2 separate regions of the Homo sapiens genome follow, and region 2 is linked to region 1. Evidence: fine-mapped expression QTL. A gene starts in region 1. The other region holds a variant in brackets. All regions are shown on one strand. Distances are between the middles of the regions. Region 1 holds the start of F3 (coagulation factor III, tissue factor). Region 2 overlaps SLC44A3-AS1 (SLC44A3 antisense RNA 1).

Region 1 (15,243 bases):
CACAGGCCAAATATGTGTGTGCACATGCAAAACAAACACATAAAATATCTTCTATCTTGCACCAACAAAGGATTTGAAGTAGCTTACAAAAAAACTCAAGAACTATTAATATAAAAGAGAATCATGAGGATGCCATTAATTAGGGGGGAAATGAATGTCAACCATGCCACAGTCACCAGAGGGGCTGCTGACGCTGCTACATTCTTGCCTGGTGCCACAAAAGACACAAGCAGAAGCACCTGGGGGTCTGGAGGGTCTTGCAAATGGGGGCTCTGGGAAGGCAGCCACATTCACCTGGGGTCAGGCCCCCTATTTCAACCCTCAAAGTAGATACCAGAGGAGGATGGTTGGTTGGTTGTCCGTCCACCCCTTCTTTTCACCATTCCTACCTTGAGAAACTGTTCTCTCTCGCTGGGCCTAACACTCACACAACACCTTCATTCTAACCAGCTGGCCTTACAAGAGAAGCTAATTTCACTCTACTCAATGTGCTACATGCATTTATCTAAATTGCCTAGCTCAGAGCCACAGTTGCGGCAAAAGAATAAATCTCCTACTTGACAGGAATTCTCTTCATTCTTTTACTGGCTCCTAGGGCCAGCTTACAGGGGCAAAGGCTGAGGAGGAAAGTATTCCACCTTTCCAAAACCAGAACGAGGGTGACAGGCAGATGGCTGGGCAGGTGCTGGCACATCACGGAACTCAAATCATGGCCAACTGATTAGAAAAGGTCAGCATAATTAGGCTAATTATGGGCTCAGAGGGAAACCATGGACTTTCCTCATTGATTTATGACCGTTTGGGAAAAATCCTCAACTGGGATTTTTAGTGTGATAACGGGACAGAAAAATCAGGATACATGATATATATATAGGGAAAAGCTAAAACCCCGGCCTTGGTGGATTTCCTATCCCTACCCGCTTCCCTGGCCCGCCCTCTCCCAACACACATTCAGCCGGTTACTGAGGACAGTAACAGGGTCTGGGGACAGACTGGGGGAGAAAGTTACTTGATGACACTGTCATCAGCTCCAAAGTTCACATTCTGTGAACCTCCTACCACATCTGGAATGTGTGAAGAGGGCTGTGATACATACCAGTTTCTGAGAAAAAAAGAATAAATATTTTTAATTTTGTAGCCCCTAAAGGCACAAGATCACGAGAATGTTCAGACGTTTCTAACAAGAATGAACGGTATTACAGCCCAAGCCACTTACTCTCCAGGTAAGGTGTGAACTCTGGGGAGTTCTCATACAGAGGCTCCCCAGCAGAACCGGTGCTCTCCACATTCCCTGCCGGGTAGGAGAAGACCCGTGCCAAGTACGTCTGCTTCACATCCTTCACAATCTCGTCGGTGAGGTCACACTCTGTGTCTGTTGTGTAAAAGCATTTGCTTTTCCAATCTCCTGACTTAGTGCTAAAGAAAGAAAAGAAGGAAGAAACATAAATGGAATGTTACAATTTGCACCCAACAAGATAGACTGCTTCCTGGCTGTGGTGTTCTGTGCTAACATCAGGAGCCCTACAATCAATCCTAATGATGCAGTCACTGTGCTGAGCACTTTGCTTTTTTTTAAACATTGTTTTGTAGAGATGGGGTCCTGCTATGTTGCCCAGGCTGATCCTTCTGCTTCGGCCTCCCAAAGTGCTGAATGTACAGGTGTGAGCCATCATACCTAGCAACACCGAGCACTTGGGATGCATGTTTGAGTCCTCATAGCAACCCAGGGGATGGCTCTGTAATTTGCCTTGTTTTTACAAATAAGGCTACTGAGACAAAGTGAGATTGGGTGACTAGCTCAAAATCACACAGCTGGACTTTGAACCAGACAGCTATTTGACTCTTGGATCTGTACTCAACCATTTTGTTAAATATCTTTCTTTTAGAATGTAGACGCTCTCTGTCAGGGTAACAGGAGAGAAAGAGCAGTTTTCCATCAAGATGAGGCAACTGAGACAAAGTGAGGTTGTTTACTATAGTCTACTTATTATAGTTGTTTGTTATATAATGTTCTATATTCTATGTAGAATAGAGTCTATATAGTGAGTCTACATAATAACATGTTATACATATATTCTCTCATGACCACTATTAATAATATTATTAATCATTCATTGACTCCACTATATGCCAGGTATTCTGCTGGACCCTTTACTCATGTTACTTCATTTGATATAATCCTTCCAAGAAGGTGTTGGATCTTTCTTATCCATGAGGACACTGAAGCTCACAGGCACTAAGCAACTTGCAGAAGGTCACATATCTAACGAGTGGCAGAGCTGGGTCTGTTTGCCCCATTATACTACATGCCTCCCTTCCTTTGCAAGATGTGAATCCATCCCAACAAAGATTACAGAATAAGAGTACAGGTAGTATCTGTCTAATAAAGTCTGAGACTAAAAAGCTAAAGACAGATCTTTCTTTTGTGAGACGTCACTGAAGGGGAAATGATTTAAAGGACTTCTACTGACAATGAAATTCTTCTAAATGACCAAAATAATAAATAGGTGAAGCGTCACTGCAACTTGATTCACACACTTCTGTCCCATGGAAAGTGACAGTTATGCTGCTCTTCCCTTTGGCATTACTGACTGCCAGAGCCAGACCCATCGTTCAAGGCCAGGTCCCAACTCCACCTGCTCCAGGAATCTCCAGATCTCCCTGCTGAGCATTTACATCTCCCTCCCCTGTCCCCCAGCATGAGTTTCTCCACGATGCTGTTAATATGAACACAGTCTGCCTGGTACGAGGGCTGCATGCCCTTGTGTGCCCCCATTAAGCAGCAGGGCTATAGGGTCTCGCTGACTATTAGATGGTTTGCATTTACAGGTTGAATTAATACATAATCTCAGGGAAAACGAGGCACCACATGGATTCCATTGTCTAAATTCACACATAAAAGCCACAAATATATTTTCTTTCAAAATCTGAACTAAGTAACCAGGCCAAAAGGATTTGGGTAAACACATTCTTTATCCTAAAGTGCACAAACTAAGATTGATACTGAAATATTTTGGTTTCTATTTATTTAATTTTATGTGATAAAAGTAGAGAGGGTATTTTGTTCCCGAATGACCAAAATGTGTTTTATTTTATCATTTCCATTTCAAAAAGTGAATGAGACTATGCTGTTTCCTTTTTATCAGTACAGCAAATAGTTGTTCAGATAACAGGAGAAAGTCTCCTAGGGCTTTCTATGTAACATAGAGATACAGTATTTGGTTCCTCCCAGCTCACAGCAGGGACCACATACTCTATAGCAAAATTTAGCACAAGGATTTATACAGTACCCTGGTAAGTAGTAAAACTGTATAAACAGGTAATGAAGGGACAATTCTGTAGAAAATCCCTCTGAATGCCATTAATAGCATTAACACTTTAAAAGCCTCCAAGGTTCCTCCAGGCATTGCAAAACCCTCTGATTTGGAATTTTGAGTTAACTAAAAAATTCAGTCACTAATTTGGTTGCAGGTTGTTTTCCAGAAGCTTTGTAAATTCAGCTTTAGAATTCAGAACATTTCCATGGAATGAATATCACCGGTGACGGTTTGTGCTAAGGCTTAAGCCAATAACATTTCCCAACCACCACTGAAAACTGTTAGCAAAGGTGAAAAATGCAGTTGGAGTTCCAAGTAGGGGCTTCTGCACAGCAGTAGTGTCCTGCGGCTGGAGCCAGGCTGCAGTAGTGAGAGCAGTCGGGAGGGAAGAGGGGCAGCTGCTTAAGATGCTAACTGTAGGGAGGGAAAACAGGCAGAGAGGAAGGCCAACTGAGGAGATGCAGTGGGCAAGACTTTCCTTCTTCCTCCCGCTTTGGAGCCTCCCATCAGACTGTGGCAGAGCCACCTGAGGGATGGTGGTGTGTGGATACTGGGTAGACTTTGGTTCCAGACCTGACATGGGCACTCACCATCAGTGTAGTCATGAATAAATCCCTCACTTCTCAGAGCAACAGTTTCCTCAACTGTAAAATGACTGCTCTGGTCCTTTTTAACCAGGAATCTCATTTATTCCTGGGGTGGGCAGGAGAAGAGTGCACACCTCAGGCCGAGGCTGATGGAAAAGCTCCCAGGCCCTCCAGTACAGCAGCAAGAGATTGTTCAGTCCATAGGACCACCCTGAGTCGGCTGGCATCCCCCAAGCTGTAGCCCTGCGCTCTGCTGTTTGCAGATCAGGAGCTGTGCTCATTTAAATAACAGCAGCCTTATAAAGTTCAAGAACTTACAGTTAACAAAGGCTTATGTTTAAAAAGCAGATGAATCATAAATATATTCCCATGTGTCCCTCAAATATTAGATTGAATATATTTAGGAGGTAAGCATTCCTCCCAAAATCTAATTTTTACCATATGGAAGTAAAGTGTTTACTAAGGTAAACTTCAGGCCTGTATCAGAGAAATTACTTACTAATTCTCAATTGGTGAAATCTGAATTGACAAGTTTGACCAGAACTGTAATCATTATTTCATGTTATGAAATTCCTTCATCTTTCTCTCCCCCCACCCCCATACATATCCACACATGCATGCACGTATGCATGCAAGTTCTCCTTGCTGGTTTGGCAACTACTGTCATGAAGTTCATTTTGAAAAACAAGAACATTCACTTAAAAGATGCATCGTTATCTAGAAGTTGCATTCCTAATGCTGTAAAAGGCCTGGCACAAGCTAAAACAAAACAGAACAGCAAAATACCTTTTGTTTTAGCTAGTGCTACTTTTGTACTTTTATGTAATTAGCATTAAAATAATTTCCACAGCAGCTATTCTCTATTTCATAAGATCTCTACCAAGCCTCCTAGAACATTTCAAAAACCAAAAACTTGCCAAGAATATGGTGAAAACCATCAAGGAAGTCATAACCTTTAGATTGAACATGCTGAATTATCGCCTCCTGGGGACAGCTGCCAGTCAGAGTTGAGGCACCAAGAAGCAGAGCCACACCAGACCCAGAGGGTGCAGACAGCAGAGTATTTCTGCTCTGCCAGGCTCAGTGAGTCACGCATTTGGCCTCCTCCACTAAGATCATGTATTCTACCAGATTTCGATTCATGGAGTCCAAAGATGAATGAATCAAACACTGCTTAAGGGCAATGTATACATTGGGATTCCTCCCCACCTCTTCCCTAAGGTGTTAGACATTGTTCACAGTCTAGACAGCAACAGAAAAAGACATCAATGTTTAGATGAGATTAATTAATCTATCATGACCCAAAGCACACTTCAGTGCCTACTCAAGATGGTTCATCTCTCCACAGTTTATACTCCACTTAGGAACTCTCCCATCATTTCCAAAAACAATTAAAACAATTAAAATGTTCTATCAGTTTAAGGTCTGGAAATGTTGCAGGCCTAATAGAGTATGACACCGGCCAGCGAATTGCCAAGAATCCCTTCTTCTTCGTCATCTGTTAAATAATTTCATCCAGTAATCAGCTTTAAAGACATTCTTGTTCAGCATAGGACAGTAGAAACATCAAAGACCTTAATTTTCTTTTTCTGTACCCAGCTTACCTTATTTGAACAGTGTAGACTTGATTGACGGGTTTGGGTTCCCACTCCAAAATTGTCTTGAAATTAGTTGATTTCCAAGTTAAATTATATGCTGCCACAGTATTTGTAGTGCCTTTAAACAACAGAGAAACAGCTATTATTACATGCACTTCAGAGCACTCGAATGTATTGATGTATAAAACACCTTCCCACCTGACATCACCATAAACCTCACTTTTTATTTTTCAACCACAAAAGCTTCATTAGTGAATTATCAAGAGAAAAAGAATCTTCAAATTTTTTCTAGACCTAGAATTTCTTCATGACAAGATTCACCTTGTAATCCCAGGACACCGGCAAGGATCTTGACATTTTCGTTTGAAATTATTCATGGGCAAAGCCTTGTTATAACTTGACCGGGAAGAGCCCAGAGCCATCAGTGTGCCAGTCCAGGACTCAGCTCAGGAAGAGTCAGGTTCAGCCCGCCAGGAAGGGTTTTCAGTAAGTTATGGAAAAAGATAAATCCCACACGTGTGACAAGAGTTAGGACTGCATACAAATGAAAAAAGCCAAACTTCACTTTTTCCACTTTTATCTGAAATGTCGCTACACTGAAACTTCCACAGAGACCCACGGGGACGTGTGGCCTGTCACACCGTCGGCTGTATTGGATCAGGATTATTTCTTATGAAGGTCTGCTTTGCCAGTACGCAGCAGGTCCCAGTCTCTACGCCGTCCCGAACACCTCGTAGAAATACGGGGCATGCACAACGTTGTACCTGCTCCAATCTAAGCAGCAATCCAGCCCTTTTGGATTGCCTCTACCCAAACCTAGAACAAAGATGGCCAGGAAAAGACCAGGGACGCTCTTTATTAAGGGAAGATGCACATATAATGAAAGATAATATCCAAACCTCTGCACGCCAACACGTGCAGACGCAGGCACAAGTCCTATCATATTGAAGGTCGCAACTCACTGGGAAGCCCTTTCCCCAGAGTTAAAGCGGGAGCTAAAAGTCCGCTTATGCAACAACAGTCCAATTACTCGGACACCCCGAGCAAAACTCTCCAGCGGAAGGGGCAGCGGGGTCTGGGGCGCCAACTCCCTCCCTGCAACTCCCGCCGGCGCCCGACGGACTCGGTTCATTCAAGCCGGGCTGGGTGAGCGCAGCCGAGTCCCGTAGGCGCGGGGGACAACATGGGCGCCCCGGGGAACCAGGGCGAGCCCGCTGCCAGCCAGGACTGTCGCCTCCCTCCTGCGTGTGGCGCGCCCCGGGCTTCCAGGGGCTGGTGCCACTCACCTGAAGCGCCGGCCACCTGGGCGAAGACCCAGCCGAGCAGGAGCGTCCGAGCGACGGCGGTCTCGGGGCGCGGGACCCGGGGCCAGGCAGGGGTCTCCATGTCTACCAGTTGGCGGCGAGATCGAGCGGGTTCCGTGGCGCCCGTGGGGCTGGGGAGGTTGGGCTGAAGGCGCCCTGGGCCGGCCAGAGGGAGTGCGAGGGGGTGCGGGGAGCTCGCAGTCTTGGGGAGCCGGTGCCCCGCGCGCTATAAAGGGCCGGCGGCGCGCTCTCCCGCGCCTCTGCCCGCCCCCGGCGCCCGCCCCCGCCGCTCCTCCCGACTCCCCGCCCCCGGCCCGGGTCACTTGCCGTCGCGGTGGGCGGCCCCCGGCGAGTCCACACCCCTGCCCCGCCTCCTCCCGGTAGGAAACTCCGGGACCCTGCAAGGGATGACTCACCCCAGTGATTCAACCGCGCCACCGAGCGCGGAGCTGCCCTGGAGGACGCAGGCGGGTCTAGTTGCCCGGGTCCCCCAAGGCCCCCGGATTCACCCAGGCCCGCGACTCCGACGTGCAGCTTAGGTGGGTTGCAGGTCTATGGCAGGAAAGGGAGGGCGCCTTGGAAGAATTCTTCCCTTCCATTTGGTGATAAAGTGGGAGAGGCGGCATTTACAACATTTAATAGAAAGCACGGGCTCTGGGCTCCCCTCGGGCAGCGGAGGGCATTTCCCGGATGCTTTGCCCACCTGGGGCAGAAGCTCGGGACCTGCAGCGAAGTAAACGTGTGGCTGTGAGCAGGGCCCTCTCCCAGCCACGGTGGCTTCTTCTACCCCACGAAGGTCAAGAATACCTGGCCTGCCCACCTCGCGGGGCCCTTAGCGGGTCGCACAGGAGAAAGGCGGTGGGAATGCCGGTGTCAGCCACGGTGTGACCGGCTCGGCTCACAGGTCTGAGGGTCAGTTGGCTCAGGCATCGCCCGGTACGACCAGAGATAGTGACTGAGGAAGAGCAGCCTCACATCTGGCAGTTTGCCTCTGGGAGAATTCCAGCGTGACATCTGCAGCTCTGTGGTTCCAGAAAGGATGGTTCCCACATTGAAGAAGACATCTGTGGGACTGAGTTCCACCGAAATGCAGAGGAACCAAAAATGAAAATGAAAAATGTAACCAGAGTTGTGTGCCACTAGTTTTAAGCTTTGGTTTTTCTAAATTATTTTCTGGCTTCTCCTTCTGGGCTTTGCTGTAAACTTGCCAAGCATGAGAACAACTCTTCATCTATTGAGTGGCATTTTAAGCCATCCTGTCAAAGTATCTCCTGTCATTTTTATTATTATTACTCTATATTGCCTGCAAGACACGACTGGAGAATTCTTAGTGTAAGAATTGTTTGTTTCCTCTCTCCTTCTTTCCCACGTTTTCCCAGGGAAGTCAGTCTTGCATTTTAATGCATACTATATACATATCTCGTTTAGCTTACTGAACCACTTGTTTTAACAGAATAAAACTGTGCAAAATTTTAATTTTCCTCCTTTGCCTGAACTGAAATAGCACATCCAGGTTTAGCCCTTGTAGACTTTCCTTCCTCGAAGCAGAAAGTTGCCCTTGATGATTTCCTCTTTGAGCTCTCTGCCAGCTCTGAAACCCACAAAATTTATGTTTGCAAAACTAAGCCATGCAATCCTCTTTTTATGCAGGCTCTAGCCTGAGTCATTTTCCCTAAGAGATCTTCAGCTCCACCTGGGATGTGATTCTTTGCTCTCTGGGATTGAAGGTAGCTGAAGAGAAATAGTTACACTTCAGGTTTGTTACAAGACCCAAGAAATTGTTGCAATTCCACTTGGAGTCACTGACTTTTCTGAAATCATATAGGGCTTTAAACAATGTCAAGATCAGCCATTTGATAAGAAAAATGTTTACCATTGGATTGTGATACACAATGTGCCTTAAATATTGATAAATTAGATGAATATTTATTTTGTATATCCATTAAAATAGACAGGAAAGAGAAGATGTTGGGTGTTTGCACAGGCTTTTTAGTCAGTACGGAATGACATTCTTCAAGATTTAAAAATGCTAAAATCATTACTATTTTCAAGAAGAGGGAGGAAGAAAACGTGGTAAATAATATTTCATTGCGAAGTGTTTTTCCCTGACTGATCTAATTGTGGCCAGATCTACTTTTTGACGGTGCGAAGTGTACTTTTTAATGGTGCCAAACAGCAGTTGATCTATAATAACTGCTGCTTGGCACCATTAAAAAGTACATATCTAAAATTTCACTGTTGAAATTTGTTCACAAGAACAAATTGACTGTTAAAATTATTCCCTAACCTTAACACAATTTTTTTTACTCCTGTCAGTAAAGTCAAGCTTAGCAGTTAACAGTTCCCTCCTCCATGATCTATCTTGGAGGCTCTGAGAAGTTCAAAAAGTTACTAAACTATAACAATAATCTCTCTGGCTTGACCAGTCCCTTTCTCATTGGATTTTAGGATGTCAGAGGATGGGAGAACCTCACAGACATTCTTTTATGGATGAGAACCCTGTGGCCAGCTGATCTGAGTAAACTGGCTTGCCTAACCACACAGTGCAGATCTGGTCTTCTGACCCCGGGGGCTTTCCTTCCATCACCAGGCTTTCTCCTACTCCCAATGAAGGAAAGTAAGACTGGGTGGTAAATCCATCAAATGAATGATTAATTAATCCATCCATAAGCACTCAAAAATGTTCTGCATGTACACAAAGTGCAGAAAAGTGCAAAACTGCACAAAAACTGCACACAAAGTATAGAAAATACTTTGCAGTTTGGGGAACTCATTGTTCTTAGGCAGAAATATCCTGATGGTTAGTCCTTGAAATAGACAGACAAGGAGACACGTAGAAGAGTTTGAATTCCCTTTGCATAACCAGTGATGAAATGTGGTTGATGAGAAGTCTGAAAATAACTGCGGAGATGTTTCAGCCCTTCCACTGTACTTTTATAGTACTTGCTGCCAATTTTACCGACTCATTTTCATTGAGAACTTCACTTAATCTCACTTGTGTGTTTACCTGTTAATCTTTCCTGTTGGATTGGGTTTTTTGTCTGTTTTTTTCCTCTCTCAACCCTTTCCACAATTATCAGCACATAATAGGCACTTAATACCTTTTGAGTCAATGAATACTTTATAAAACTATGAGTGCAACCAAATATTTCACTGGTGTTCAAGAGATGAAATCTGTCACTGAAAACTCTTTCTAGGGGCCAGGCAGTGAGTGTTTCATGATGCTGAGATTGGTAAGAAAATACAAATCCATCATGACTGGAAAGGCACCACTCGACCGCAAGTTCTAGCAGTCTAACCAGTGATTAGCTATCTCTGCACCACCAGAAAATCTCACCAGGAGGAGAGATAGCTGAGAAGCAGAAACCAGATACAGAAGTTTGGAAACTAGCTAGCATTTTTTTAAAAGACTGGATTCTACGATGATTCAGAATATACTTCATCATGCGATGAGGTTGTTGATAGTTTTCCTTGCATACAGAGGCTGAATAACTTTTTAAAACAAATTCCTCAAAATGTTTATTTCCCAGGAAAGAGATAGGTTAAGATACATGATAGCAAGTAAAATTGAGAATAATTCAGAGAAACTTATTTTATGCATATGAAATGGTAAAAAGAGCAATGAAACCATTACCCAAAATTCAGGTAAAAGGCAAAGTATGAGAAAAGGCCAGAGGGAATTAGGAGTTAGTAGGAACACAGAGTTCTGGAGGAAAAGGAAAAAAGTGACTCAGCAGAACCTAAGAAACATCTGGCTGGGTATAGTTAGTCATGGAAAAATTGGCAGTCATGATTATGCATTTTGTGAAAATAGCAATATACTAGTCCAACAGTTCATTTAGACCAAAATTAAACAGTTGAAAGTCAGTATGATAAAATCTATTATCCTGGTCATTCAAAATACTTCTATCAACTGTCTAGAACAGCTTACAAGAAGCTTTGCTAAATGAGTTATCACATAGCACCAGTATTCTGAAAAATGTAACTTTAGAGAAAAACCTTCCAATTCAAGTCTTAGACTGGGATTGGTATTTTCAGCAGACATCTATTTTTATAAACGTAAAGCTTATCAAACTACCTTTCAACTTTCATTTTGATGAACAGTAAATATTATTTTATTATCTACATACAATGGTGACAAAATAGATAAATAATAAATATGAATTGTGGGTATTATTTTAGTAACAAAAAGTCATTTAAAATGAAAACCCTTAACCTATGTTCTTATTAATATAATATTTATGTGATTTAAAATTTTGTATATGGTATCATTTACTTAAGCATCTCTTAATTCCTCATTTCTGTAACTCTTTATACCTGACATATGTACTAAATTTGATGAACAGAAATTCATTCATTCAACAAATGCTTGAATGTCCACCAGATACTGGGTTCTTTGCTAGACTCTGGATGTACAGAGTAAAACAAAGAAGTCCCTTTCCTGTTAAACATATCATCATTCCTACTTATGTCCAGATTTTATGTTTGTTTGTTTGTTTTTTGAGACAGAGTTTCGCTCTTGTTGCCCCAGGCTGGAGTGCAATGGCACAATCTCGGCTCACTGCAACTCCACCTCCCAGGTTCAAAGCAATTCTCCTGCCTCAGCCTCCTGAGTAACTGGGATTACAGGCATGTGCCACCATGCCCAGCTAATTTTGTATTTTTAGTACATACAGGTTTATCTATGTTGGTCAGGCTGGTCTCAAACTCCCGACCTCAGGTGATCCGCCTGCCTCTGCCCCCCAAAGTGCCGGGATTACAGGTGTGAACCACCATGCCCGGCAGATTTTATGGTTTGAATGATTTTCTGTCAGCATTTGAATTGGATATAAAACAATCTTAACAGTGTTGTTTATTTACAAATTTCATTCTGTCCTCCCCCCAAAAAGATTTAGGTGTGTCATGATCAGTTCATCAAATAGGTATCTTTAACTCAGAAAATGACTTACAGGTTTAAAATATACATTCTCTATCAGTTTGAACGTATTGATGAACTCTCAAAGTTTTGAATATGGAAAAAATATATGAAGCTCAACAAGAAAGACAGCTTTATAAAAAGGCAAGTCTAGCAGAAAAGATAACCAAGTAGGAGGAGATTCCTCACGTAAGGAAAAAAACAAGTAAAATAATCAGCTTAAAAGCATGTGTGCAAGATATTTCATTGTTATTTTTATGTTTGTTTGTTGACATTTTATAGCCTAGTTAACAGATGCTCCAAATTTTGAGCCTGTAACCCTTCCAATCCCTTGCTGCCTTTGATGGTGATGCTCCATCCTATTATACCAACTCCACATTGAAGCAGAACTCTCAAGACAGAGGTAATTCCTTAGTAAGCAAAGTTATTTTTCACACTGGAAACATGTTTGTTTGACTGGTTGTAATTGTCATCCTAAACCATCATTACCCTTTATGTTACAACATTTTAGCATCTCACAGTTCTAAATCAACTACTTCTATTCTCACAGTTCTAAATCAAATACTTCTATTCCTTGCCATAAGGGGAATAACAGGTTGCTTTAGCGTCATTGTTTGTGCCCCCTCACACCCACCCAGCAAATCCGTATGTTGAAATCCTCACCTCCAATGTGATGGTGTTAGGAGGCGGAGCCATAAGTAGATGATCTGGTCGAGGATGGAGCCTTTGTGAATGGGGTTAGTGCCCTTATAAAAGAGCTTCATCTTCCTTTCTGCCATGTGAGGACATAGCAAGAAGACGGTTCGGGAAGCTGAACCAAACCTGCTCGAAACTTGATCTTGGACTTCCCAGCCTCCAGAACTGTGAGAAATAAATTTATGTTTGTTTAAGCCAGTTGGACTATGGTATTTTTTGTTATGGCAGCCTGAATGGACTAAGATACAGGACATATACTATGGAGACAGCTATTAAAATGACCAATTTAGAGCGATTGATCTTAGACCTGCACCTTATTTTAAGAATAGTGTTTACTTTTCATCTCCAATCACAATGGATTTGTTAACCAAGATCCTGCCTTATATGGGTTAATCAATACTTATTAAGGGATTACTATGCACAGGACAGTATACCAGGAACTGTGAGTCCCTTTGGTAAAATATCTCGTAACTAGTCAGGAAGACGAGACAAATACTTAAGCTTCCACAGGGGAAAGTGGTACGAATGATGTGGGATATAGTGTCACATCTCTTGCTAGTAGATTGAAAGCCCTGTGCTGGAAGAGACTGCTCTATCTTTACAGGTAGCTACAGTGCTAGCAACAGTGCCTGGCACACAGTAGGTCCTCCGTATTCAGAAAGCTTTGCTTAAAGATACAGAAGATGTTCAGGACCTCTACAGAGAGAGTTTGGTTCTCACTGGGGTGATGAGAGAAGGTTCCCTAGAGGAAAGTATTATTTAAGCTGTGGCTTAGTCCATTTAGTCTGCTCTAACAAAATACCTTAGACTGGGTAATTTATAAGTAACAGAAATAACAGTTCTGGCAGCTGGGAAGTCCAAGATGAAGGCACTGGAAGATTCGGTGTCTGGCAAGGGCTCACTCTTTGATTCGTAGCCGGAAACTTGTTGTTGTATCTCCATGGCAGAAGGGACAAGGCAGCTCCATTTAACTTCCTTTATAAGGGCACAAATCCCATGCATGAGAGCAGGGCCTCATGCATCACTGCCTAAAAGGCCCCACCTCTTAATACGATCACATTGGGCATTAGGTTCCAATGTATGAATTTTAGGAGGAAACCAACATCAGACCATAACAAGCTGGACCACAGAGGAACAGCAGAGAGGAGGAGGAGAGTTTTAGTAAGAAAGAGGAGGTCATGGCCTCTAAGAGTGAGCAGAAAACCAGTTACAGGCAGACTCTGGAGATAATGAAGATTCAATTCCAGACCATGGCAATAAACCAAGTATCACAAGAAAGCAAGTCACACAAACTTTTTGGTTTCCTAGCACATATAAAAGTTACGTTTATACTACATCATAGTCTATAAAGTATATAATAGCATTATGTCTAAAAAAGTACAGACCTTAATTTAACAATACTTTATTGCTAAAAAAAATACTAAGAATCATCTGAGCCGTCAGAGAGTTGTACTTTTTTTGGTGGTGAAGGGTCTTGTCTTGATGTCGCTGGCTGCTGACTGATCAGGGTGGTGATTACTGAAAATCGGGGTGGCCGTGGCAATTTCTTAAAATAAGATAACATGAAGTTTGCCACATTGATTTTTCCTTTCACAAAAGTTTTCATCACCCTATATTGAGGTTACACACGATGTCTGTGTCTTCTGCTCTACCCTAGCATCATGCAGGCAGGAATGTGTCTGTCTTGGTTCTCCACCAAAGGCCAGTACTTCTAATACTTAGATGCTATAATCAAGCACTTGCCAAAAAAAAAAAAACAAAAAAGTCTGATAACGAAGACATAGCCCTGACATGGTTCTGACAGTTTATGTCTTGGTTATGGTTATGACAAAACCTTTCCGAGGATTCAGGAAATCTGCAAAATGGCTTTGTTCTGTCTTTTATTTCTTAGCTGATGTCATGATGTCAGTGGAAAAGCAAATGATCATTTGGGAATATCCAGTGATCTCAATACCAGTCTATTACTTGCTGCCAGTGAAAATGGCCAAAAAATATTGTTCTAGCATCCTATAGGTATTAACTGAATGCTCACAACAACCTTCTGAGAGGTAGGTGGAACTATACATTTTACAGACAGGCTAACTGAAGCCCAGAGAGGTTAAATAATTTGCCCAAAGTGGCACAGCTGGGAAATGGCTAAGCTGGGATTTGAACACAAATAGTGGAGCTGCAAGGTGCACATCCACAACCTATGTTGCTATGTGGCCTCTCCTCAATCATGACACTAACACATGCACATTTCCTATGAAAGCTCAGTGAAAACCACTGCACTGATTCAAGTCCCTTTTTCCTTTTTCCCCTGTCTTCCCTACCTGGTGAAGTTGACCCTCTGTGATGCGCCTGGCTTCAAAACATGGGGACTTTCTGAAAGAAAACTAAGCCAAAACCTGGCCCAAGTCAAGAACAAAGGGATCTTTCTTTTGCTTTGTTTCCAACTCATTTCATCCACATCTAGATTGCTTTCCTCTCCAAAACAGGAAAAAGGAAGCTATCTCTGAAAATGGCTTATTTACCCTGACAACATGAGATAAATGCTCCTCAGCATCTTATTATTTATTAAGAAATATGGGTCATGATTACAACTCATAAATATTAGGAAAGCCCTTTCTGACCTACTTCTTGCTTATGGCATCATTGAGCTGATGAGTTAGATTAGTCCATAATCACTTTCACTTATCTATCAGCCATTCCACAGCCCTTTTCTCACCTATGAATTAATGTCCTATTTATCATCGTGATACAAACATCCAGGCTCAAGTTGGAACTTGTCGTGCAGTCACTTCTATTTCCCTGGAATATTTGTGCAGTGATTGCTCCCTACTTGAG
Region 2 (15,243 bases), 240 kb after region 1:
ACCTGGCAGTCCTCTGAGGGCCCTTCCCAGGAGGTTTGTGCTCCCGAGGGCCAGGACAAGCTGGCATTGGGGTGCAGCTCCGTGATGCACCCTGGAGCTGTGGAGCCCCAGGAAGGCTGGCCTAGGGGAGCTTGTGCCAATAAAGGAGAGTTTGGTTCATGCCCTGACTCTTTCCCCAGGTCTGGCTTCTCTCCTGCACAGCCTCCCTCCTACCTGGAAATGCTGGGGACTCAGCACCAGGTTCTGCCTTCACAGGAGAGGACAATGAAGATGCAACTAATGTCTGTGTGGCACCTGATACAAGAAGCTTGAAGGGCTTCCTCTAAAAAGAAAGCAGCACAGAAGAGGCCATCTGCAGAGCAGCAGGTGTGTGCATGGCTGTCAGGTCTGAAAAACTCACCCCTTCCTTGGCAAGGGGAAGAGCATGTAGTCATGTGATTCACAGGACCCTTTCATGACTACAGCAGCATTTGTTCTGCATCACCTTCCAGGCAGGTAAGGAGCCTGAGGCTCAGAGTTGGCCAAGCTGCCTGTCATGGCACAGCTAGGTGGTGACAGACTCAAGCCAATTGGGCATGTTTCTGCTACATTGCTGCCTTCCCATGACCCAGGGCCTCCTACTATAGAGAAGGGAGAAACCAATTACTTGAGAGTGTCCTTTCCATAACCATATGGCCTGCTTTCTCTCCCTCCCCTCCTAAACCTGAGAAACTAGCTCACTCTAAGTTGTTAATGACTGAAAAGCACACCCTGCAGCATATTTGTGATTTACAAAAACAATGCCCTAATAAAAGGACCAGTTTTTACAGTTCTAGGACTGTAAATGCCAGGCAAGAGATCTGCAGAAGAGGTATTTGAAGACCTCAATGGAGGGTCTGACTCTTTCCCCACCCAGAGAGTGAGCTTTTCCATCCAGAGCAGTGCCATCACTGCTTTACTCTGTGCCTTTGGTGCAAGGCACAGTGCTTACCACATGGCAAATATTCCCTAAGATATCTGGTGATAGATGAATGAAGAAGTGGATGGATGGATGGATAGATGGATGGATGGATGGATGGATGGATGGATGGATGGATGGATGGTTGGGTAGGTGGGTAAGTGGGTGGGTGTGTGGATGGATGGGTGGATGGATGGATGGATGGATGGATGGATGGATGGATGGATAGATGGATTGATTGATGAACTACCCCCAAACTACCCTTCCCAGTAAATGAGTCATTCATTCACTTACTCCAGTTATGTCTACTAAGAACCAAGCCTGCAGCAGGCAATAAACCATGCACTAGAGATATTGCTGTGAACTAGACAGTGTTTAGAGTCTAACAGGGGAGTTGGTCATTAAACAAACAGGGGCCAAATAGTTATTTAGTGATAGTATGGACTAGGTGTGCTAGTAAGGCTAATGGCCACAACTGTATGTTCTGATCATTTAGGTATCCAGCTGCTAATCTGTAATCTAATTTTTAATCTGGCCATTATTCTTACCAAATTCTCATTTTTTAAATATGCTTGGTGTTGTTTAAACAAAACCTATATGATTTATTTTCAACCCAAAAGAGTAATGCTTAAGGTACATGAAGGAAAACCAAGGCACATATATCAAAGCTCTAGAGAATCAGGTTTCAGTTCCACTAAACTATTTCCACCAGCCTCTTCAATGATTAGGATTTTAAAGCTCAAAATAGTTTCCACAGCAGTATTACAATGATATAAAAATTACATGCATAGAAACCCTAAAAGGAAATCACAAAAACATAAATAGTAGATATTTATTAAATGGTATAATTATAGGTATTCTTTTTACTATTGCCATTTTTTAAGTTTTTTATTTAATGGATGATTATTACTTTGTAATAAAATGAATTTTTTAAAAGACTGTTTAAATGTATGATAGATGATCTCATTTTCCTTTTAGAATTATTCATATTGCAAAGTCTACAGTATATTACACTTAGTGGATTTTCACTATGTCTTTCTTTTATCTCCCCACTATGTATTTCTTGAATGAAGGAACAGATGAATGAGTTTTGAATTCTAATAAGACCAACATATGGAAATTTTTGTCTTAAAGTGTTGCGCTCATATTTTCCAAACAGCGATCAAACTTGAGACCTTTGGGCTTCCTCGAAAAAGACCTATCAAAAGCTTGTTTTAGTTGTCTTAATCAGTTCTTAGTTATTTTTGCTTGTGAATACGAGTTTTGAATATAATAAATGGATTGAATTAAAGAAAATATGTTTAAACACATTCTGAAATGTATTACTTCTCTAATTTCTACTATTTAAAAATTATGTCTCCTATTGAGAACAACATTCTGCAGGCTTCTCAAGAAATCTCACTTGTTATCAACAAATATTTGGATCCCATCAGAACATTTGTTTTTCATTTGTAATTGTATTTACTCTGGAGTCCTTCTGTGAACTGTTTGGTTATGACTAATAAGTTAGGAACAATTAGCTAAAATTCATTCAATCATAGGAATTTACATTTGGAGGGGTCATTAATGGTCATTTAAGTCCAGCATTTCTCCCAAGCAAGAATCCCTTCTACAGTCTTGGTCAGTAGTCTTTGGTGTCTGTTTGAATACCTCAGATGCTAAGAATCTCACTGACTCCCATGGAAGCTGAGTTTGTTTGTTTTTTTAAATGCTTATCTTCATGCCCATCAAAGATGAAAGTTTTATTTTGTTTGCATGTACACTTCTAATCCCCAGCACAGAACTCAGCACATCAAAAATCTTCAGTAAATGTTAATTGCCTGAATAAGTGGAGGTTTGAATCCATTCATTCATTTAGTGTATTATTGAATGTCTACTATGTGGTGGGTATTTATCTGAAGCACTGGGGGTACAGCAGTGGACAAGAAAGACATGGTTCCTGGCCCATGAGGTGTTTTCACTCTAGCTGGAAAGACTAATCTACCCATATTTCCCTTTCCTACTTAAATCTTAGACATATCATCAGTAGGCAGATGGAAGCAGCCACTATTAGGACAGGTTGAGGAATAAGTAGCAATTTCTTACACATTCTTAGAGATTACTTGAGAACCTCCAGGGAAGACTACACTTCCTGTCAGGCTGGGCTGGTGGATGTTCAAGTCAGTATTGTTTGAATATTAAAGAAATGTAACCTTATTTTATCCCTATAGCTGATGCAGCAGGACATTCAATACAAAGAGAGAGAAGATGAAGCTGTATTAACACATACATATATGTTCTACTTATTGATACATTTATATATATGTATACACACACACATTTATTCTTATTCAAACACATACACACTCACATAAAAATGGAAAGATATTCACCTAATTTTTTAAATGATTATCTCCAAGTAGTGGGATTATAGATTTATTCTTTTAGTTTTTCTATATTTGACACATTTTCTTCAGCAAACAAATATTACTTAAATAAGCAAAACAATTGTATTAAACACACACACACACACACACACACACACCCACACACAGCAAGTCCGGCTAACTGGTCACGCTGCTGATGCCTCCATGCTTTGTTCCTGCAAATGCCTTCTCCCTCCTCTCTCCCTTTCAACATCTTCCTCGCCCTGTAAATAATCTCAGCTCAAGCATCATCTCCACTAGAAAGCTCTCCTGATGCCCACCTTCCCCAGGGACCCTATACCCCACTTTCTTTGTGCACTTGCTGAACTAGGTAGAGACATTTATGATGGTGCCTTACAGCTATGCATGGCCTGCTCGCCTGATTGCCAGTGCCTGCAGGCCTGGCTCTGTGCCGCTCATCTGCACAGTGCCTCACCCTCAGTAGGGAATTGGGAGATAAGGGATGAATCCCTGAGCCTCTCCTAGGTCACTGATATGGCTGCTCATTGGTCATTCTCCTCTGTAGCTGAGATCACATTGCCCTCCTTACAAACTACTGATGGCTCCTTACTGCCTACTGAAAAAAATGCAACATCTTAGGGCATCCAAGAGCCTCCACAATATGATACCAGCTTGTACCCCATCCCAGGAGTACTCATCCAGCCCTAAACAGGTCATGCCTCCCCACCTTTGCCACTGCTATTCTTTTAAACTAAAATGATTTTCCCCATCTCTACCTAAGGAGTGTCTAAAAATAATTTCTACTCATCCTTACACTAGCTCGAAAGCCACTGATGCTCTGATGTGCTCATCAAAATCTCTGTTGGGAGTATCTGCAATCTCATATGCCCTGGGGTTCCTGTCTGTCCCTACAGCCACGTAAAGTAAGCACCATGAAGGCAGGGGTCATGCCTTAATCTTAATTTAGGAGGCACTCACTGAGGAGCTGTTGATTTAAAATGATTTGGAAAAGAAAAAGTCCACGTTCTCTTCCAAATGAAGGGCTATACAAGTTACTGTGAATGGTTTTAATACAGAAAATGAGAGAAAAGAGATCCAAAAAAATAAAGTGAAATGGGATAGGTTACCAAACAAAGAATGAAACCATATAAGTAGAATTTGCTTTAAGATAAACATTTAGGTATTGAATATCTGAGATTTCTGTTTCCTTGTTTTATGAGCACAGGATTGTAGGAGAGTCAGCGAGCAACCCCAACACCCTTAAGTTCTTAGGTGGTATTTTTGGCTAGAACTAGAAACCAAATGGACACCAGGCAGATTAACAAGATAAAAGCATACTAATTGTATTGGTTTTAAGGAACGTAGGTGTCATGCCAGATCCCTATTGACTCCAATAGGAATGGCACCATGTCTGAGAGGCCAAACAAGAGACCCAGAGCCAGCAAACGAGACACGGGGTTTTATTAGGGAGAAATTACATACAGGAATAGTCCAGTGGTGGAAGACTGAACAGGAAACTGTAACTGCTTGAAAAAAGCATGTAGTTTAGATAGCACCTTCACTTAGCACGCTCCCCCCGACAACCTCCATGTGGCAACCCTCATTTCTTAAGTCATTGCTGGCAGGTGCATCTGCCGTATAGGGTCATTCTCAGGGTGTGAATAAGTCAGTGCTGTCAGATGCAACTACTGTGCCCGTGGGATCTTCACAAGAGAGTGAAATCCAAAGAAATGCCCAAAGCAAGATGTCTTTATACTTTTTAGACAAAGAACAATGAATTTGAGAAGAAATGACAAGAAAAAGGGGATCTGGCTAGGGGTAGTAAATTTTAAGGGAGTCATAGGAGCTATATGAGGGGACATAAAACTAGTGGACGACAGGGGTTACTTCGGTAATATTTATTTAGGTCCACTGCAGCCTTAACTTCCCAGTCTCTGGTAATAAGGACGATTTTCTTGCCCTGGTACATGGAGGTCCCCCTCCAAGAGGAAGCTTTATGGCTTGCTGCATGCAGGGGGAGACAGGACAACTGGCCCTTTCTGAAACTACAATTTCTTCAATGTTTGTAACTCAAAATAATAAATATACCAATGTGGCATATTTTGAGATTGCACATTCTTCATTCCTTCAGAATTCAAAGTCACAGATGTTGGCTTTGTCCTTGACATTGCCTCTGATAAGTTTGGTGATCTTCACCAAGTCATCAAACCCTTCTGAGCTTTAATATCCTCCTCCTTAAAATGTATATAAGAATCAGTAGAAACAATAGCTACCACAGAGCTGTAAAGAGTTCATAAGGTGCTACAGAAATGTAAGGCATTTGTGAATGTGGTGTAATTTTTTTCAATAAATAAATATTAATTGAGCATCAATTATATGCCAGGTGCTAGGAAAAAACAGAAAAATAGCATTAGTGGCATCTACTTGCTTCCTTCCTTGCAGGCATATACTTTTGCAATTTGTTTCTGTCCTTCAGTGACATCAGTGCATAATGCCAGTTTCCCTCTCTTGTCTGTGATAGGGAAAGAGAGAAAGGAGCACACATAGCTCCCCACACATTCCCTGGCCCCAACCCTGCCAAGCCCTACACTGTAGAAACACAGAGGGAAGGCAGACAAAGGAGAGATTATGGGTATTAATGCTCTGGGGAAAATGCAAACCAGCCTGTTCATACCACCGGTCACAGAGTTTGATGATAGACCATGAGCTGTGACCATGAAAGGGATGCTGGCTTGACATTAGGATCAGTATATTTATAAGCAGATCAGGAGCTTATCCCATCATTAGAGCCTTTTGATCTTCCTTGCCCACCAAAAGGAAAAGCAAGACACCATCAAGTGAGGAGCCTGGGCCAAAGGTACCATGATACAGTCCAGTGCCTGAGGAATAAAACAGCCCCCGCCCTAGATGCTGCACTCAGATGGGAATGGAGGGAGTACTTGGGCACCTCTAGAATCATTCATTCAATCAAGCATTCAAAAAATACCTATCAAAACAGTGATAGGTATCAAAACCTATCAAAAAACCTGTCAAAACCTAACCAAAAAAGGTTAAAACACTGACTTTTTGCTGCACAAACCTGGGTTCAAAACTTAGCTCCACCCTTTAAAAGATATGGGACCCTAAGCAAGTTGCAGAACCTCCCTAAACCCACCACTTCATCCAGAAACTAGGATAACACTAATAGCTACCCTTAGAATTGTGGTGGAGATTAAATGTTACGGAGCTCTTAGCACTGTGCCTTGCAACTGCTAAGCATATAATGAATAATTGTTATTATAATCATCATTATCATTGATATGTGCCAGGCACCATCCTAGATCCTAGGGCCAAAGAGTTAGAGAAAAAAAAAAAAGTTATTGCACTCACTCAGGCAGACTACTCACTATAATACAATATGGTCAGTATTACAACAGGGCTAGGAACAAAAAGTTGTGGGAGAAAAGGGTTTGAGGGAGAGGGGTGGTGGCTTCCCAGAAGAGACAGTGTTTTCATTCAGCCTTAGAGGATAAGTAGGGATTTCACCAGGAGAAAGAGAGAGAATAAGGTAAGGCATTCCAGGCAGAGAAAATGTCCAAAGCAAAGTTATGGAGGAAGAAAGGAGCAAGGTGAGTTGAGACAGCTGCATGCAGTGCATCCTGGTCCTTCCTCTCCTCTAGTACATTGCAGAGAATCACCTTGTTCTGCTCAGAAAACACAACCTGGGGTGTGCTGGGCTGATAGAGAGATTCCAAAGAAGG[A/G]AGTGCCCAGGACTCTGGCACTCTTTCTGCTGCTTGGAATTCACCCTTCAGCCATTCCAGATGCCTGATTGCCAGGAGGAAGAGCAGAGTTGCCAAGGTCCTAGCTGAGGGAGAAAAGAGGGCAGAGCCTCCCCAGAGCTGGAAGGCCCTTTCAGCAGAGCCCTGGGGAAGCCACAGTCAGCTCCACGGCAGCAATCCCTGTAGGAGCAGCCAAGGAGCTGAAGCGCAGCCAGCCAGGCTGGCCAGCCAGCCTCCACCACAACAGTCGCTATTTACTTTGGATGCTGGCCGTCCCCACAATTCACACACAAGATTTATTACCAGAAAGTAAGTCATACAGGCTGCAGTAATAACATACTTCCTAAACGCAAGCCTTCACTCCTGTGGCTAGGGCAGGAGGATAGGACAGGAGGAATATCATCCAGTTATGGGGAACATCTATCATGCCTTATATGTTTAGAGAACATTTAAGTTCCCTAGGGAAGTCTTTCTCTGTGTCTTCAGCAACTTTGGTATCTGATCACTATAACAGGGTAATAGGCTGGAATTTTCTTTTTCTTTTTTTTTTTCTTGAGACAGAGTCTCGCTCAGTTACCCAGGCTGGAGTGCGGTGGTGTGATCTCAGCTCACTACAAGCTCCGCCTCCCGGGTTCATGCCATTGTCCTGCCTCAGCCTCTCGAGTAGCTGGGACTACAGGAGCCTGCCACCACGCCCGGCTAATTTTTTTGTACTTTTTAGTAGAGACGGGGTTTCACTGTGTTAGCCAGGATGGTCTCAATCTCCTGACCTCTTGATTCGCCCGCGTTGGCCTCCCAGAATGCTGGGATTACAGGCGTGAGCCACCGCGCCCAGCCTAGGCTGGAATTTCCAACTGTGTGTATACTCCCTGTCTTTTCCCTGACCTCTTATTTCAATCAGGAAACAAAGTTTTGTGATTTCTTGTAAGGGGATTCTGACAAAGTGGAAAGCAGACAGCAGACATCAATTCTAGAGCAACGGAAGTCAGAGGCCAAGGCAGGAAGAATGTCTTTAAGGAGCAGCAAGGTAGGAAATGGAGATTCCTAGAAACTGGAAAGAAGGTGGCAAGGTTTTAGAGAGGAGCCGCTAAGTGGTTATGGATTCCTGGAACTGAGCTTGGCCCTGAGGGGAAGAGAGAATTACCACCCAGCCACCTGTGCCAACAGATAGTTTCTGTCCATTGGAGACAGAAACAGGCCATTGGCTGGCCTGGTAATATGGTTTGGATGAACCCAAATCTCATGTCAAAATATAATCCCCAATGTTGGAGGTGGGGCATGGTAGGAGGTGACTGGATCATGGCGGGAGGATTTCTCATGAATGGTTTAGTGTCATCTCCATGGTATTGTCCTCACAATAGTAAGTTCTTGTGAGATCTGGTCATTTAAAACTGTGTGTCACCTCCTCATATCTCTTGCTCCTGCCTTTGCCATGTTAAGTGCCTGCTCCCGCTTTGCCTTCTGCCATATGAGTAAAAGCTCCCTGAGGCCTCCCCAGTAGCAGATGCTGCCATGCTTCCTGTACAACCTGCAGAACTGTGAGTCAATTAAACCTCTTTTCTTATAAATTACCCAGTCTCAGGTATTCCTTTATAGCAATGCAAGAACAGGCTAAAACACCTGGTCTACTACATTCTTATTTGCACTGTTTAAGCAGAAGAGTTCCAGGCAATACGAACTTAGTCTAATTTAAATCATAAAAACAGAGTCGCAGTTTCTGCAATCAATTCCTAGACTTGAGCCAGTTTACAGATCCCAAATGCCTTGAAAGAAGGGGAGGTTTGAGCTCCTTGAAGAAGTACCCATTACACTGCCAAAAGTTTATGCCATTAATCTTTTTCTCAGCCCTCCCCAAAGGACCTATGGCCTTCTGCCAGGGTGACTGTGCATTAGGGAAAACAAAATAATCAGACTTTTAGGTGATTATTGGACACTGACTTACTGGATTAGTGACACTAATCTTAGGAGACCCAAACCATCACTGTGGTCTATCAGTCAGAATATAAATTTTATTTATTTATTTATTTAGACATATGGTCTCACTCTGGTTGCCAAGGCTGGAGTGCAGTGGCATGATTTTGGCTCACTGCAGCCTCGACGTCCCCTGGCTGAGGTAATTTTCCCACCTCAGCCTCCAGAGTAGTTGGGACTACAGGCTCATGCCACTACATCCGGCTAATTTTTTTGTATTTTTAGTAGAGACCCGGTTTCACCATGTTGCCCAGGCTGGTCTTGAACTCCTGGGCTCGAGAAATTCACTCCCTTCACCCTCCCAAAGTGCTGGGATTACAGGCATGAGCTACCATGCCGTCCTAGAGTGGGAACTTCTGAAACTCAGGTAATTAGTGTAGTTTTAGCTCAAGTCACAGTGAGTCCAGTGGGTCTCCAAACGCATTCAGTGGTCATTTCTCCAGTTCCAGAGTAAATAATTGGAATAGACATATTCAGCAACTGGCAGGATCCCCATGCTTGTTCTCCGACTTGTGGAGTGAGGGCCATTACAATAAGAAAGACCAAGTGTAAGCCACTAGAATAGTCTTTACCTAGGAAAACAGTAAACCGAAAGCAATACTGCATTCATGGGAGGGATTCTAGAGAATGGTGCCACTATCAAAGGTTGGAAGGATGCACACGTGGTGATTCCCACCACATCCTCATTCAACTTGCCTATTTGGCCTGTACAGAAGACAGATAGATACTGGAGAATGGCAGTGGATTATAGTAAGCTTAATCAGGTGGTGACTTGAATTTCAGCTGGTCTTTCAGAAAAGGCTTCATTGCTTGAGCAAATTAACACATGCCCTATTACTGGTATGCAGCGACTGGTCTGACAAATGCCTTTTTCTCAATACCTATTAATAAAGACTACCAGAATTGATTTGCCTTCTGTTGGCAAAGCCAGCAATACACCTTAACTGCCTTACCTTGGGGTATATCAACCCTTCAAACCTAAATGTTATATTATAGTCTGCAGGGACTTGATCATCTTTCCATAAGACCACTGGTTTATTACATTGATGAATGCTGATTCCACCTAGTGAGCAAAAAGTAGCAATTATACTAATTAGTAAGACATTCGTGTGTCATATGGTAGGAAATAAATCTAACAAAAAGGGCCTTCCAACACTCCTTTATGATTAAGAAAACACTCAGCAAACTAGAAATAGAGGAAAACTTCCTCAAGTTGATAAAGCATATCTACAAAAAAATCTACAATATAATACCCAATGGTGAGAAACTACAAGCTTTCCCACTAAGTTCAGGTAAAAGGCAAGAATGTCTCTTCTCACCACTCCTTTTCAACATTGCACTGGAAGTCCTAACATAATGTGATTTTTTAAGGAAATAAAATGCATAAAGACTAAGAAGGAATAAATAAATCCGTGCTTGTTCACAGATAACCATGATTGCCTATGTAGAAAATCCAAAACAATCAACAAAAATATTCCTGGAATTAATCAGCAATTATAGCAAGTTTGCAGTATACAAGGTCAACATATAAAAGCCAATTGCTTTTCTATATACCAGCAATGAATAAGTGAAATTTGAACTTTAAAACACAATATTATCTACATTAGCATTTCCAAAAATGAAATACTTAGGTATCAGTTTTGTTTTAAATGTGCAATATCTATATGAAGGAAACTAAAAAATTCTGATGAAAGAAATCAAAGAAGAACTAAATAAATAGATATTTCATGTGTATTGATAGAAAGACTCAATATTGTGAAGATGTCAGCTCTTCCCAGCTTGACCTATAGATTCAATGCAATACAAGTCAAAATCCCAGCAAGTTATCTTGTGAATATCAACAAATTAACTGTAAAGTTTACATGGAGAAGCAAAAGACCCAGAATAACCAACAAAATATTGAAGGAGAAGAAAAAAGACAGACGACTAATACTACCTGACTTCAATACTTACTATAAAGCTATAGTAGTCAAGACAATGTGGCATAGTGAAGGAATAGACAGATAAATGGAATAGAATACAAAGACCAGAAGTAAACCCACATTAATATTGTCAACTGATTTTTTACAAAGGTGCAAAGGCAATAAACTGGAAAAAAGATGATCTTTTCAATGATAGTGCTGGAATAAATGGACATCCATGTGCCAAATATAAAAATCTAAACACAAAAATTAACTCAAAACAGCTCATAAACCTGAATTTAAAGCATGAAACTATAAAACTCCTAGAAAATAACATAGGAGAAAATCTAGATAATCTTGGGTTTGGCAATTACTTTTTAGATATGACAGCAAAGTCATAACCCATGAAAAAAATTAATAGGCTGGACTTCATCAAAATTAAAAACTCAAAAGACCCTTTAGGAGAATTAAAACACAAGCCACAGACTTGGAGAAAATATTTGAAACAGATGTATCTGATAAAAGACTATTACCCAAATAGTCTCATTCACTTCTGTTAAGATTGCAAAATAGTATAACCACTTTGGAAGTCAGTTTGACAGTTTCTTACCAAACTAAACATACTCTTACCATATGATCCAGAGACCCTGCTTTTGTAGAAATTAACAAACTGATTGTAAAATTTATGTGAAAATTCAAAGGACTGCGAACAACCAAAAAAAAAAAAACTGAACAAAAAGAACAAAGTTGGAGGACTTAAACAAAATTTACTATAAATCTATAGTAATCAAGACAGTATGCTATTTGTGTATGGACAGACATAATTGATCAAACAGACAGAATAGAGTCCAGAAATAAATCTTCATACTTACAGTCAATTGATTTTGACAAAGGTGACAAAGCAATTCAATGAGGGAAAAGAGAGTCTTTTCAATAAATGGTGCTGGAACAATTATATATTCATATACAAAAAAAACAAAAAAAATCTTAGACCCTCATCTCTTACCATGTATAACTCAAAATAGGTCATAGGTTAAAATGTAAGTCCTAAGTCTATAAAACTTCTAGAAAAAAAAAACAGAGAATCTTTGTGACTTTGGGTTAAGCAAACACTTGTTAGATGTGACACAAAGCAAGATCCATAAAAGAAAAAAAATTACACTGGAATTTATCAAAATTAAGTGTTTACTTTTCAAAAGACATCACTAAGAAAATTAAAACAGAAGCCACCATCAGGGAGAAAATATTTGCAAATCACATTTCTGATAAAAGACTTGTATGCAGAACTCTTACAACTTAATAATATAAGACAAACATGAAGAATGAAATTAGACTCCTATCTCTCCTATATACAAAAATAAAGTCAAAAGGGATTAAAGATTTAAATCTAAGACGTGAAACTACAAAACTACTAGAAGAAAACATTAGGGAAATGCTTCAGGATATTGGTCTGGGCAGATTATTTTGTGTAAGACCTGAAAAGCACAGGCAATAAAAGCAAAAATAGACAAATGGGATGACATCAAGCTAAAAACCTTTTTGCACAGCAAAAGAAACAATCAACAAAGTGAAGAGACAACCCACGAATAGGAGAAAATACTTGCGAACTATCCGTCTGATAAAGGGTGAATAACTAGAATACATAAGGAATGCAATGCAATTGTTTTTAAAAAATCAAATTTTGAAACAAGCAAAAGATCTAATAGACATTTCTCAAAAGATGGCATACAAGTGGCAAACAGGTATATGAAAAAATGCTCACCATCACTAATTATCAGAGAAATGCAAATCAAAACTACAATGAGATATCATCTCATCCCAGTTAAAATGGCATTTATTAAAAAGATGCTAGTGAGGATGTAGAGAAAGGGGAAGGAACCCTCATACACTGCTGGTGGGAATGTAAATTAGTGCAGCCACTATGGAAAACAGTATGGAGGTGCCTCAAAAAACTAAAAATAGAACTACCATGTGATCTAGAAATCCCACTACTGACTACATATCCAAAAGAAAGGAAATGAATGTATCAAAGAGATATCTGCACTCCCATGTTTATTGCAGCACTATTCAAAACAGCCGAGATACGGAATCAACCTAAGTGCCCATCAATAGGTCTATGGATCAAATGTGGTGTATATACACAATGGAATATTATTTGGCCATTGAAAAAGAATGAAATCCTGTCATCTACAGCAACATGGATGGAACTGGAGATCATTATGTTAAGAGAAATAAGCCACACATAGAAAGGCAAATATCACATATTCTCACTCATATGTGGTAGCTAAAAAGGTGGCACTCACAAAGACAAAGAGTAGACTGGTGGTTACCAGAGTCTGGAAAGGATGGAGGGGAGGGAGGAATGAAGAGAGCTTGGTTAATGGGTACAAATACAGAGTTAGATAGAAGAAATAAGACTTAATGTTCGATAGAACAGCAGGGTGAATATAGCTAGCAATCATCTATTGTACATTTCAAAATAGCTAGAAGAGAATAAACTGAATGTTCGTAGCGTCAAGAAAAGATAAATGATAATGGTGAAGGATATCCAAATATCTCATATACCCCCAAAATAGATACATCTATTTATCAATTTAAAAAGACAACTCTGGTCAGGCACAGTGGCTCATGCCTGTAAATGTCAGCATTTTAGGAGGCCGAGGTGGGTGGATTACCTGAGGTCAGGAGTTTGAGACCAGCCTGGCCAATATGGTGAAACCCTGTCTCTACTAAAAATATAAAAATTAGCCAGGTGTGGTGGCAGGCACCTGTAGTCCCAGCTACTTGGGAGGCTGAAACATGAGAATTGCTTTAACCTGGGAGGTGGAGGTTGTGGTGAGCCGAAATTGCCCCACCACTGCACTCCAGCCTGGGCAACAGAGTGAGACTCTGTCTCAAAAAAAGAAAAAAAAAAAAAGACAACTCAGTTTTTAAAATGGGCAATAATGTAAATAGACATTTTATCAAAAAAGGAAACACATATGACTAATAAGCATACGAAAGGATTTCCAACATTAGTAGTCATTAGGGAAATGCAAATTAATACCACATCCACTAGAATGACCATAATAGAAAAGACTGACCTTACTAAGTCATAGATTGTTGGTGGGAAAATAAAATGGTACAGCAACATTGGGAAACATTTTTGCAGTTTCTCAACATGTTAAATACACACTTACTGCATGACCCAGCAATTTCGCTTCTAGGTGTCCAGTCATCAGAAATGAAAACATATGTTCACAGAAAAACTCATATGCACATGTTCATAGCTGCAGGATTCACAATAACCCAAAACTAGAAACAATTTAAATGTCCATCAACTAATGAATGAATAAGCATATTGTTGCTTATCTATAATGGAAAACTACTAAACAATGGAAAGGAACAAACTACTAATATGTGCAACAGCATGGGTAAAACTCAAAATATTATTAAGTGAAAAATGCCAGGCACAAAATATAATATATTGCTTGACTCCAGTTACATGAAACTTCTAGAAAAGGCAAAACCATGAAGACAGGAAACAGATCAGTGGTTGCCTGAGGCTGAGGGTGGGAAGCAGGATTGACTGCAAATAGACACAGAGAAAACCTTCTGGAGGTGATAGAAGTGGTCTAAAACTGGATTGTAGTTATGGTAGCAAATCTGGAAATTTACTAAAAATCAACTATGCAGTTACAATGGATGAGTTGTACGGAATACACATATATTGCCATTACTTTTAATGACAAAACCACAATTACTTTTGCAACAACCTAATAAATTAAACCCCAATAAAGTCATTTTTTTAAAACAGAGCTAATTCTTGCATACTTCAGTTTGTAGACTTAAATTCATACTGATTTCATGAGCTTTAATTTTTCCCAGGCATAAATCATCCTTGCTAATATGAAAATCAATTTGGACAAAAGCTTTCCACTTGCCTTCCTCAACCTGTAATTTATTTTGAAAGCACAGAAGTTTCTGTTGCATGCCTCTCCTTCAAAACCTTTGCTGTCTTCTGATTATCTCACCTGGGAGGGCTCAGTCACAGGGTCAGAACGAAAGAATTCACAGTCATCATGAAGTGCAGGTACTATTCCATCTTCTATGTACCATCTTCCAAATCTATAGCAATGATTACTTGGAGCCAAGATCACTGAATTTTAAAGACTGAGAAATTCATCACAAGACTTCTAATTTCTCATTAACTCTCACTTTTATTAATTTAGAGATGAAATTAAATTTATTACAAAGCTACTCTCTACCCTTCCAGATCCAGAGCCACCCAAGGACTGAGTTCAAGAATCTTAAAATCCTAGGTAAAACTA

Evidence for each region. PIP is the estimated chance that this variant, and not a neighbour inherited with it, causes the effect.
Region 2: its variant is fine-mapped to the expression of F3 in lung (TOPMed, PIP 0.92).

What each region holds. Positions count from the first base shown.
Region 1 is chr1:94,534,749-94,549,991 of GRCh38, forward strand. It overlaps F3 (coagulation factor III, tissue factor), which reads right to left and starts at 7,011. Exons shown (of 6, transcript NM_001993.5): 1 at 6,789-7,011; 2 at 5,509-5,620; 3 at 1,217-1,416. The coding sequence starts at 6,888. It overlaps MIR12133 (microRNA 12133), which reads left to right and starts at 8,954; the gene lies at 8,954-9,031. It overlaps LOC124904223 (a long non-coding RNA gene), which reads left to right and starts at 7,226. Exons shown (of 2, transcript XR_007066234.1): 1 at 7,226-12,124. RefSeq lists a silencer at 6,931-7,210.
Region 2 is chr1:94,776,401-94,791,643 of GRCh38, forward strand. The region is part of intron 1 of SLC44A3-AS1 (SLC44A3 antisense RNA 1); the gene reads right to left. Among named protein-coding and RNA genes, the nearest start is that of SLC44A3-AS1, 36 kb to the right of the region's middle. RefSeq lists an enhancer at 6,762-7,524. The variant A/G (reference allele first, on the strand shown) is at 7,044.